2 separate regions of the Homo sapiens genome follow, and region 2 is linked to region 1. Evidence: fine-mapped expression QTL. A gene starts in region 1. The other region holds a variant in brackets. All regions are shown on one strand. Distances are from middle to middle.

The links. PIP is the estimated chance that this variant, and not a neighbour inherited with it, causes the effect.
Region 2: its variant is the best candidate, but not a certain one, in a credible set for the expression of DYRK2 in monocytes after LPS (Quach 2016, PIP 0.73).

What each region holds. Positions count from the first base shown.
Region 1 is chr12:67,646,600-67,650,987 of GRCh38, forward strand. It overlaps DYRK2 (dual specificity tyrosine phosphorylation regulated kinase 2), which reads left to right and starts at 2,146. Exons shown (of 3, transcript NM_006482.3): 1 at 2,146-2,583; 2 at 3,198-3,346. The coding sequence starts at 2,535. RefSeq lists silencers at 1,809-1,918, 2,019-2,318, 2,329-2,988, 3,149-3,538.
Region 2 is chr12:67,701,126-67,705,513 of GRCh38, forward strand. No RefSeq gene overlaps it. Among named protein-coding and RNA genes, the nearest start is that of LINC02421, 26 kb to the right of the region's middle. The variant C/T (reference allele first, on the strand shown) is at 1,913.

The DNA of each region.
Region 1 (4,388 bases):
GTGATCCTTTGTCAAAAAAAAAAAAAAAAAAGAATCAGTGCTCCTTTTCCTCATGTTAAATGAGTAAATTAATATTACTAATTTGGAAATCGTAAACTATGGCTTCCAGTAACTAGCATTTATTTTATTCATGAGAAAACAGTGGCATATTTAGCTTCTACTGAAGTATTGTACGAATAACTTAAGCAAAAAGGGGTGTCATATTATATTAAAATTGATTTTTTTGTTTCATTTTTTTATTTGAACATCAGTTGTATGGAGTACTCATTTTAAAAAGGAAAATGGTATGAAAATAATTGTTTTGAAAGGAGAAAAAAGAGGTGTGAGCTTTCTTGAAAGTGTAAGGAAAGTAGTGTGATGGAAGTCATAGTGAAATCAGACTGGGAGTCAGAAAACCGGTTCTAGTGTCATCTCTGCTACTTAGTAGCCCTTTTCTTTTAGTCGATTCTAAACACTAAATATGCTTCCGCATGTGGATTTAAATGTGATGGTCGCCAGTGACAAGCATAGGGGGATATTTCTTGCTAGGGTCAGTTCAGGTCATGATTCCTCTAAAGGCATATTATTGGATTATTTTACTGTGGGTCTACTTTATTAGGAGAAGGCCCCGAAAGGGTGTTTTGTTTTGTTTTGTTTTGTTTTGTTTTGTTTGGAGGGACGTAATACTAGGGAAAATTCTTTTTGTCACAGGTTCCCTCTCCCAGTGACCCTAACTTGGAGGCCTCTTTAGGAGTCCCAGAGACTCTGAGAGGGTCACACTGTACCTTGAAACAGTTTTTGGCGTTTGTATAAAGCTGCGGATGCGCTCTGTAGGAGGTTGCTATGACAATTTGCAAACAGTAGAGTGGATGAAACTCCGCAGGAGGTGGCTCCCTTCCGACTGGAGTCTGCACTAGTTCGGGCCTGCACAGTAGGTCCAGCCAGGAGCCAGAGATACTCGGGCGGGGCAGAGCATAATGGACCCCTGGCCCCAAGAGAACTTCAGAAACTAGGCACCTCTCGAGAAGGAAGTGCATGGCATAACTCTGCCCCGTCATCCGGGATTTGTCGGGCTTTCCCACCCCACCTCCTCTCACAGTTGAAGTGGCAAAACCTGTGACCTTTGAACAGAGGCGCACTGTGTGCCACGCACGACGAGGCGCGGATGTGAGACGGGAAAGCAATTTTTTTTTGGTCTTCAAGGAAAAGAGAGGTTGTATATGGCGAATAAAAAAGGCAGGGAAATTCTCCACGTGTCTTGGAAGGGAAGGGGGAAAGAGATGTGTCGGGTGGGGTGAGAGGAATTCGAGGTGTCGCTCCCTCACCGCAGAGCTGAAAGGAAGGTGTGTCTCTCCCAGTGGCCGCGCAGGGGAAAGGCTCGGAGTTGTAAGGAAATAGGAGATGTCTCTGATGTTTATTTTTGCCTAGCAACCCACAGCCAACTGCTTCCCCAGCTGCCGTCCACACGCGCCTCTCTGCCTCCCCTTGTCCTAGCGACTGGCGAGCGGTCACTTGGTGTCAGTAAACCGGGGAGGGTGTGTGGTGGAGGTGGGAGGGCAGCCCCCTCTTTCGCCCCTGCTCAGGGTCAACGAGCTCAGCGGCCGCCCCTCCCGGGACTTGCCTCTCCGAGGTGACCCTCGCACAACTAAGTTATCTACATGATGAATTGGGGAGAGGGGAGTGGCTAAGTCGCTGGGACCAAGAATGGGGGGACGGGGAAGCAGTACTGTCTGTGAGCAGCCATTCAGTTCGAAGAGCTGAAAATGCATTTATGTTTAGGGGTGCGCATGGCAGGGGAGGGGTCTCTGCGGCGCTTTCGGCCGGAGGGCAGCAGCGGTAGGTTGAGCTGTAGGGCAGAGAAGGGGCGCCGCGGGGCCGGGGAGGGGAAAAGGTCGCCGGAGTGGAGCCGAGGGAAGCAGTGCAGATGGCCGGAGGGGGCGGAGGAGGGCGAGCGGAGGCCGCCGAGTTTTCCGGGGAGCGGAGGGGCGGCTGCGCGCAAACCGGGGGACTGAGAGGAGCCGGGCGGGAGGTTGGGTGGGGGTGGGGTGTGCGTGGCCGCGGCCGGGGGAGCCGGGGGCGGGGCCTGCGGCGGCGGAGGAGGGCGGCGGAGGGCGGCGGGGGCGGGGCCGCGCGCCGGCGCCTGTGTGTGAGTGCGCGGGGGCGCGCGCGCGCGGGCCCGGGAGAGGCTCCCGAGCCAGGCGGTCTTCGGTCCTCGCAGCGCTTCCAGCTCCCCGCGCCCCTATGTGAGGGAGACGGGGAGGCCCGCGGCGCGCAGGGGAGGGCGAGGCATGTGCACGGGCCGGAGGGTGCTGCAGCCGCCCGAGGAAGAGGAGGACGGCGGCGAGGAGGAGAGCGGGGGGCTCGCGGCGGCGGGCCCCGGCCGAGGGGATGCAGTGGACTGTGTGTGTCTGGCTGTAGCAGACGCGAGGCGGCGACGAGGCGCCGGGGACCCGCGCGAGGGGCGGCCGGGAGGCGGCGGCGGCGGCCGCCAGAAGTAGCAGCAGGACCGGCGGCGGCGACGGCAGCCCTGAAATGCATTTTCCTCTCCAGCGGCCATGTTAACCAGGAAACCTTCGGCCGCCGCTCCCGCCGCCTACCCGACCGGTAAGGAGGCCGTGCCGCCGCGCCGCATCCCCGGACCCCCGCCGGCCCTGGGCAGCCCCTGTGGCGCGGGCGGCCGCTGCCTGCGGGACCTCGAACAAAGTCGGCGGCGCGGCGCGGGGGAGCCCCCGGGCGGACGACGCGCCCCGGGCTCCATGCAGGGTTGTGCGCGGCCCCGAAGGCCCCTCCGCGGGGAGCCCTCGGCCCGAAGAGGCTTCTGCCTGCCGGGGGCCCGGGCGGGGACCGTCCAGGCCTGCCGCCCCGCCCTGCGCTGCCCGGGGCTTGGCGTGGCCGTGGCTCCCTGCTCAGCTGTCCAAACCCACCTCCCGGCTGCTGGCCGTCTGCAACGTGGGCCGCCTAGCCCCGGCGCGGCCCGGCTCCCCCGCCGGGTCGCGAACTCGCGCGCCAGGGCCCCACTTAACTTTGCAGCTGCCCGCGCCCCGCCCGTGGGTGTGCGCTGGGGAGCCGTGACCCGAACGCCCGTTTTTACTGCCCCGGTCTCTTCCTCCGTCTTTCTTTGGAAGAGGGTTGTCGCTGCCCAGCGGGGTTGGAGGGGGGGTCTGGGTGACTTTCTCCCCCCTGACCCTCTTTTGTCTCCTCCCGCACGTGGCTTCCAGGCCGAGGTGGGGACAGCGCCGTTCGTCAGCTTCAGGCTTCCCCGGGGCTCGGTGCAGGGGCCACCCGGAGCGGAGTGGGGACTGGCCCGCCCTCCCCCATCGCCCTGCCGCCTCTCCGGGCCAGCAACGCTGCCGCCGCAGCCCACACGGTGAGACCCAGCCCGCGGGCGGCCCGGGCGGTGGGGGCGGGAGGGGCCCCAGGCCGAAGCACCCGGACTTGGAGGGGTCTGACGCCGGGAGAAGAGGGGTCGAGATACAAGCAGCCCCACGCCTCGGGCCGATGGTCTCTCGTCGACGCCGCCCTGGTTAAGTTGGGCGAGCCCAAAGCTGCAGCCACAAAGGAAGATTCGTGGCGTGGGCCCCTTACTTCCCCTCCAGAGCTCGCCCACCCATGACCTCCTCTTCCTAGGAACTTCCTCCTTGCTGCTTTCCTTCTTTCCTCATTTTTCGTCCTTGCATCCCAGAGTTCCCTTCCCTGACCCGGTAAACATCTCTGTCCTTCCCCCACCTCCCCGTGGGTAGTGGGTATTTATAGAAACAGATACGTGTTAGGGGACAGCCAGACCGGCCTGCCCGGAAAATCGATCCCCCAAAGAGCCTCCCAGGCCTGGCTCCAGCCAGCAGGGAGCATCGCCAATTGTCCCCCGCGTGTGTAAGCATGTTTTATGAGTGCTACAGGTTTGAGCACAGCAGAAATTGTAATCAACATTAACAAAAATAAGGGCCGCCGCAGCAGTCAAAACAAGCCACCCCTGTAGGATTCTGCAGTTGGACATTATTCAAAAGGAAAGGGCAAGCGTTGCTTTGGAGGTGGGAAAGAAAAAGCACCTAACAGGTGCTGTGGTCTCTGGGAGGGGAGAGGCCAGCGTGGGACTGGTTGCTGGTGGCTGCGGAGACTGGCAAGCTGGATTCGACTAAAGCATGTACCTTTTCTCAGCTCCCAGGGATCACCCTTGGATGGTGATGGCCAGCCTGGAGGAGGTCTGCACTTGGAGGAGGTGATGGTTTGGAGGTCTTTTTTTCCCAATTGGATTTTCCACAGGAACAGCCTAAGATGGTTCTGTGTGAGGGAGGCTTGCTAGGGATTGGTTTTATTTGCTAAGTGAAAGTTGAGTTCTTGAAGAAAAGGCCATCTCCGGTCTACAGGGGAGTAGCTCTGGGGACATATGTTATGGGGAAACTTGTTTGTCA
Region 2 (4,388 bases), 55 kb after region 1:
CTGTCTTTTTCATTTTAGTCATTTTGGAGGGTATGTTGTAGTTTTTGCATTATGATTAAAAACATTTTTTTTTTCAGAGACAGGGACTTGTTCTGTTTCTCAGGCTGGAGTGCAGTGGTGTGATCATAGCTCACAGCAGCCTCGAGCTCCTTGGTTCAGGCCACCTCAGCCTCCTGAGTTACTGGGACTGCAGTCCTCCCAGCTCAACCTCTCCTGAGTCACTGGGATTTTTCCATCTTAATTTTCATCTGTGCTTTCCTAATGACTAATGGAGTGCCTTTTCATATGTTTATTTTCTGTTTGAACATCTTCTCTCATACAGTATCTATTCTGACATTTGCCCATTTTTCTATCGAGTTATTTTCCTGTATCTCATTGATTTGAAGGAGTGCTTTAAATATTCCAGATAATAGTCCTTTGTTAGATATATGTTTGAAAATCTCTCTCTCAGTGTATGACTTTTTACTCTCTTAATGGTTTTGGAGAACTGAAGCTCTTAATTTTAATGCAGTCCAATTGATCAATATTTTTCCCCTTCACAGTTATTGCTTTTTGTGTTTTAAGAAATCTTTGCCTGAGACAGTTCTTGTGGAAACAGCTAGTGCAACACTGAGAAACTGTTGTACATTATGTTGCCTAGAGTACAAACAGCACAGTCAGGATAGCTAAAGGTGACCCCAAGAAACCAAAAGGCAAGATGTCTGCTCATGCCTTGTTTATGAAGACAATGCTGGGAGGAAAATACAAATAATAATCCAGAGGCCTCTGTAAACTGCAGTTTCCAAGAAGTGGAAATACACTGAGAGGTGGAATACAATGTGTGGTGAAAGAGAAATACAAATTTGATGAAATGGTGTGGTATACTATGAGCAGGAAATAAAGGATTATAGACCAACTAAGGGAGGCAAGAAGAAAGATGATAACACCCTCCCCTCATGCCCCACCTTCCTCTTCTACTTAGATCTCTGCCCAATAGTAAATCCACAAATTTAGGCATTTCTACCGGAGATGTCGCCAAAAACCTGGATGACTGTTATGTATGTAGAATTCCTAAAATGCCCCCATAAAGATATTTCCCCCTAATCCCAGGAACCTGGGAATATGATGAGACATCACTCACTAGTGTGGTTATCATATTTCATGGCAGGGTTAGGTAATCTCCTTAAGATAGGAGATTATCTTGGAGGATCTAATTTAATCACATGAGACCTTTTAAGCAGAGAGCTTTCTCCAGCTGGTGGCAGAAGAAGTCAGAGAGATTTGAAGAGTAAAGGGGTTATGGCTTGAAGTTGCAGCAGGCCCACCTGAGAAGGAATTCAGGAAACCTTAAAAGACCTGAGAGAGGCCCTGGCCAACAGGCATCAAGGAAAGAGGATCCTCAGTCCTACAACCACAAGGGACTGAATTCTTCCAGCAACCTGTGTGGGCCTGGAGGTGATGTCTACTTAGAGCCTCCAGGTGAGGACCCAGCTTGGCTGATGGCTTGGTTCCCGCCTTGTGATTCCCTGAGAGGAGAACCAGGTGACATCGTGCTGGACTTTGTTAAAAGCTGTTAAGTGTGTGGTAATTTGTTATACAGTGACAGAAAAATAAAACATGCAGGATAATTTTAGTGATGGTGAAAAGCTACCTTATAACAAAGTTGAAGGAGATGTATGGGAAGTAGGTGGCCAACTATAATCTAAAGCAAAGGGATGGTGATAGAGTTTGGCTATTTGTCCTCACCCAAATCTCATGTGGAATTGTAATCCCCAATGCTGGAGGAGAGGCCTGGTGGGAGGTGTTTGGATCATGGGGGCGGATGCCTCATGAATAGCTTGGGCCATCCCCTTGGTGATAAGTGAGCTCTCACTCTGAGTTCACACAAGATCTGCTTGCTCAAAAGTTTGCGGCAGCTCCCCTGTAACCCATG[C/T]TCTCTCTCTTGCTCCCATTCTTGCCATGTGAAGCGTCTGCTTCTCTTTTGCCTTCCGCCATGACTGGAAGCTTCCTGAGGACCCCCCCAGAAGCAGATGCCACTATGCTTCCTGTATAGCCTGCTGAACTGTGAGCCAATTAAACCTCTTTTCTCATAAATTACTCAGTCTCAGGTATTTCCTTATAGCAGTGCAAGAACTGCCTGATACAGATGGAATAAAGAGATCATCTAGCACACACCAGAAAAAAAGATGGAAGAGTAAGGTGAGGAGTATGAGAAAGGGAAAAAGAGGATGCAAAAGAGAATAATGAGGAAAACTGCATGTCTGTCTCCATGTGTATGTATACAGGACAACTGCAGTAACTGACCACCTCCTATTTGAGAGTCTGTTGTTCTCACTGGGTTTCATTCCGCAATTGAAATATAATTACACTGTAGTTTTTGAAGCGCTCCAGGAAATGCAAGTGGTTTCTATGTTGTGTTCATGGGTGTCACAAGCACCCAGAAATTCAATCAAAGTTGTCCATATTTCTAAACATTTTTAAAATGAAAAGAAACTCTTTTGTTATCCTCACTCCATGAATTTAGAGATCTGTGAGAGAAGGCAATTAAAAATGTTCCTGAAATTAAAAAAAAAAAAACTTATGTGTAAGGTAGTGTTATTGATTAGAAGTCTTGAGTTATCAACTGTACATCAGCTGTAATTTGTAAAAAGAACAAAACAAACTAGATGACTTTTTATGGTCTGTGCTTGGTGGTGTAATGCTGTAGAAGGTGGCACTTTTTGGAGGGGGCTGTAGCTCAAGGATGAGGCTAAACCTCTTTACACTGCTTCCGGCTGTCTTGTTTTTCTATACAGTGACATAACATTCTGCTGACATTCTTAGCTGTGGAAAAGGGGCACTGGCTGGCATGGGAAGTGTTCTGATTATTTTTAATTAAATCTAGTAGTTTGAAAACAAACTGTAGAGGTCTTCGTTGTCAGAAAACTGCATAGGTACTGCTTCAAGGAAGGTGCATAAGCCTTCTGACCTCAAGCACACACTTTGCAACATTCTGTTATTTTTTTGGTATCATTAGAACGCTAAGACTCCCTTTCCTATTAATGTTTTTATTGAGGCACAGCATAGCACAGAAGAACGCATAGAGGAGGCATAGAGCACTGTGAAGTTCCACAAAATGAACACACCTGGGTGACAACCACCCGTGATGACAAGCCCCCATGCACGCTCCTTGAAGCTCCAGCTGCCCCTTCTCCCCAGAGGCAACCTACATCCTACTCTTAATACATAGATTTGAGTTCTCTCAGAATGTTGAAATGCTTTTGAAGCAAAGTAGAGTATGCTGTTTTTAAAACTGGGAGGAAAAAAAAGAAATTTCACTCCAAGATTATGAAGATCTTTTCCTGTTTTCTTTAGGAGTTTTATTGTTTTATCTTTTGCATTTAGGTCATGATCCATCTTGATTTAGTTTTTGGTGTGGCAGTGAGGCCAGGTTACTGTCTATCCTTGGCCCAACGGAGAACCTGGTGTCTTCACTGGGATCCCTTCCTTGGCAGGTCCTGAGTTCCTATTTTCATCTCCTGAGACTGCCAGAAACTCTGATGATTTTCAGAGGCTTTCTACTTCTGTTTTTCAACCTCCACTCCTTATATACCCCCAATTCAGCACATGCTTTGAAGGGAAAGCCAACTGTGTGTTTGAAACCCTTCAGGTCTCTTTTAGAAGTTCTCTGGCTTCTCTGTCCTCAGATTCTCGGCTCTGCCATCAGCTCACCTCTCTGCTCTCTCAAGTCTTAGCCCCTCCGATTCTCTTAGCCTTGACAGCCCACCACTGCCTTCAAACAGGTGATTTCTGCATTTAATTTGGGCTTTCTTGTTTTGCTGTAGTTCCAGGTGATGTGGAGTAACAGTGCACAGTGACTCCATATCACCTGGAACAATGGAAACATTTTAAATTGCAATTATGTAAAGTAATAAAGGAAAAAAACCCATAGTGCTGTTATAAGAGGGAATATTAGGAGTCTGTGGCTCAAGTTCACTGTGTTCTGTAGAAACACTGTAGTTTATCAATATCATACCTGAGCCTTCAGCACATAGACACAGAATTAGTGAAAGAAGCCAGCAGCTAAATGCCTAATTCCACTTCCCCCATCAGCCCTTCATTTGTAATGAGTAATTTAACCTCTCTAGGCACCAGTTTCTCTGGTTCTGGCATTTATTCTTCATCTTAGTGGCAAGATTTGTCTTACGTGCTTTAAACCCTTGGAACAAAAGGCAACCTTTGACTAACTTGGCCCATTTAAAAAGAGGTACCACAGAGGTTCCCTTCACTCATTTAAAGTGGTGCGTAGGGGCTGGGGAAGGGGTAGAAGCGGGGAGAAAAAAGAAAAAAAAATGGCGTGTGTATGCTTGAAAAATCAAGACAATCACTTTTTGTTTGTTTGTTTTGTTTTGTTTTAAAGATGAGGAGGC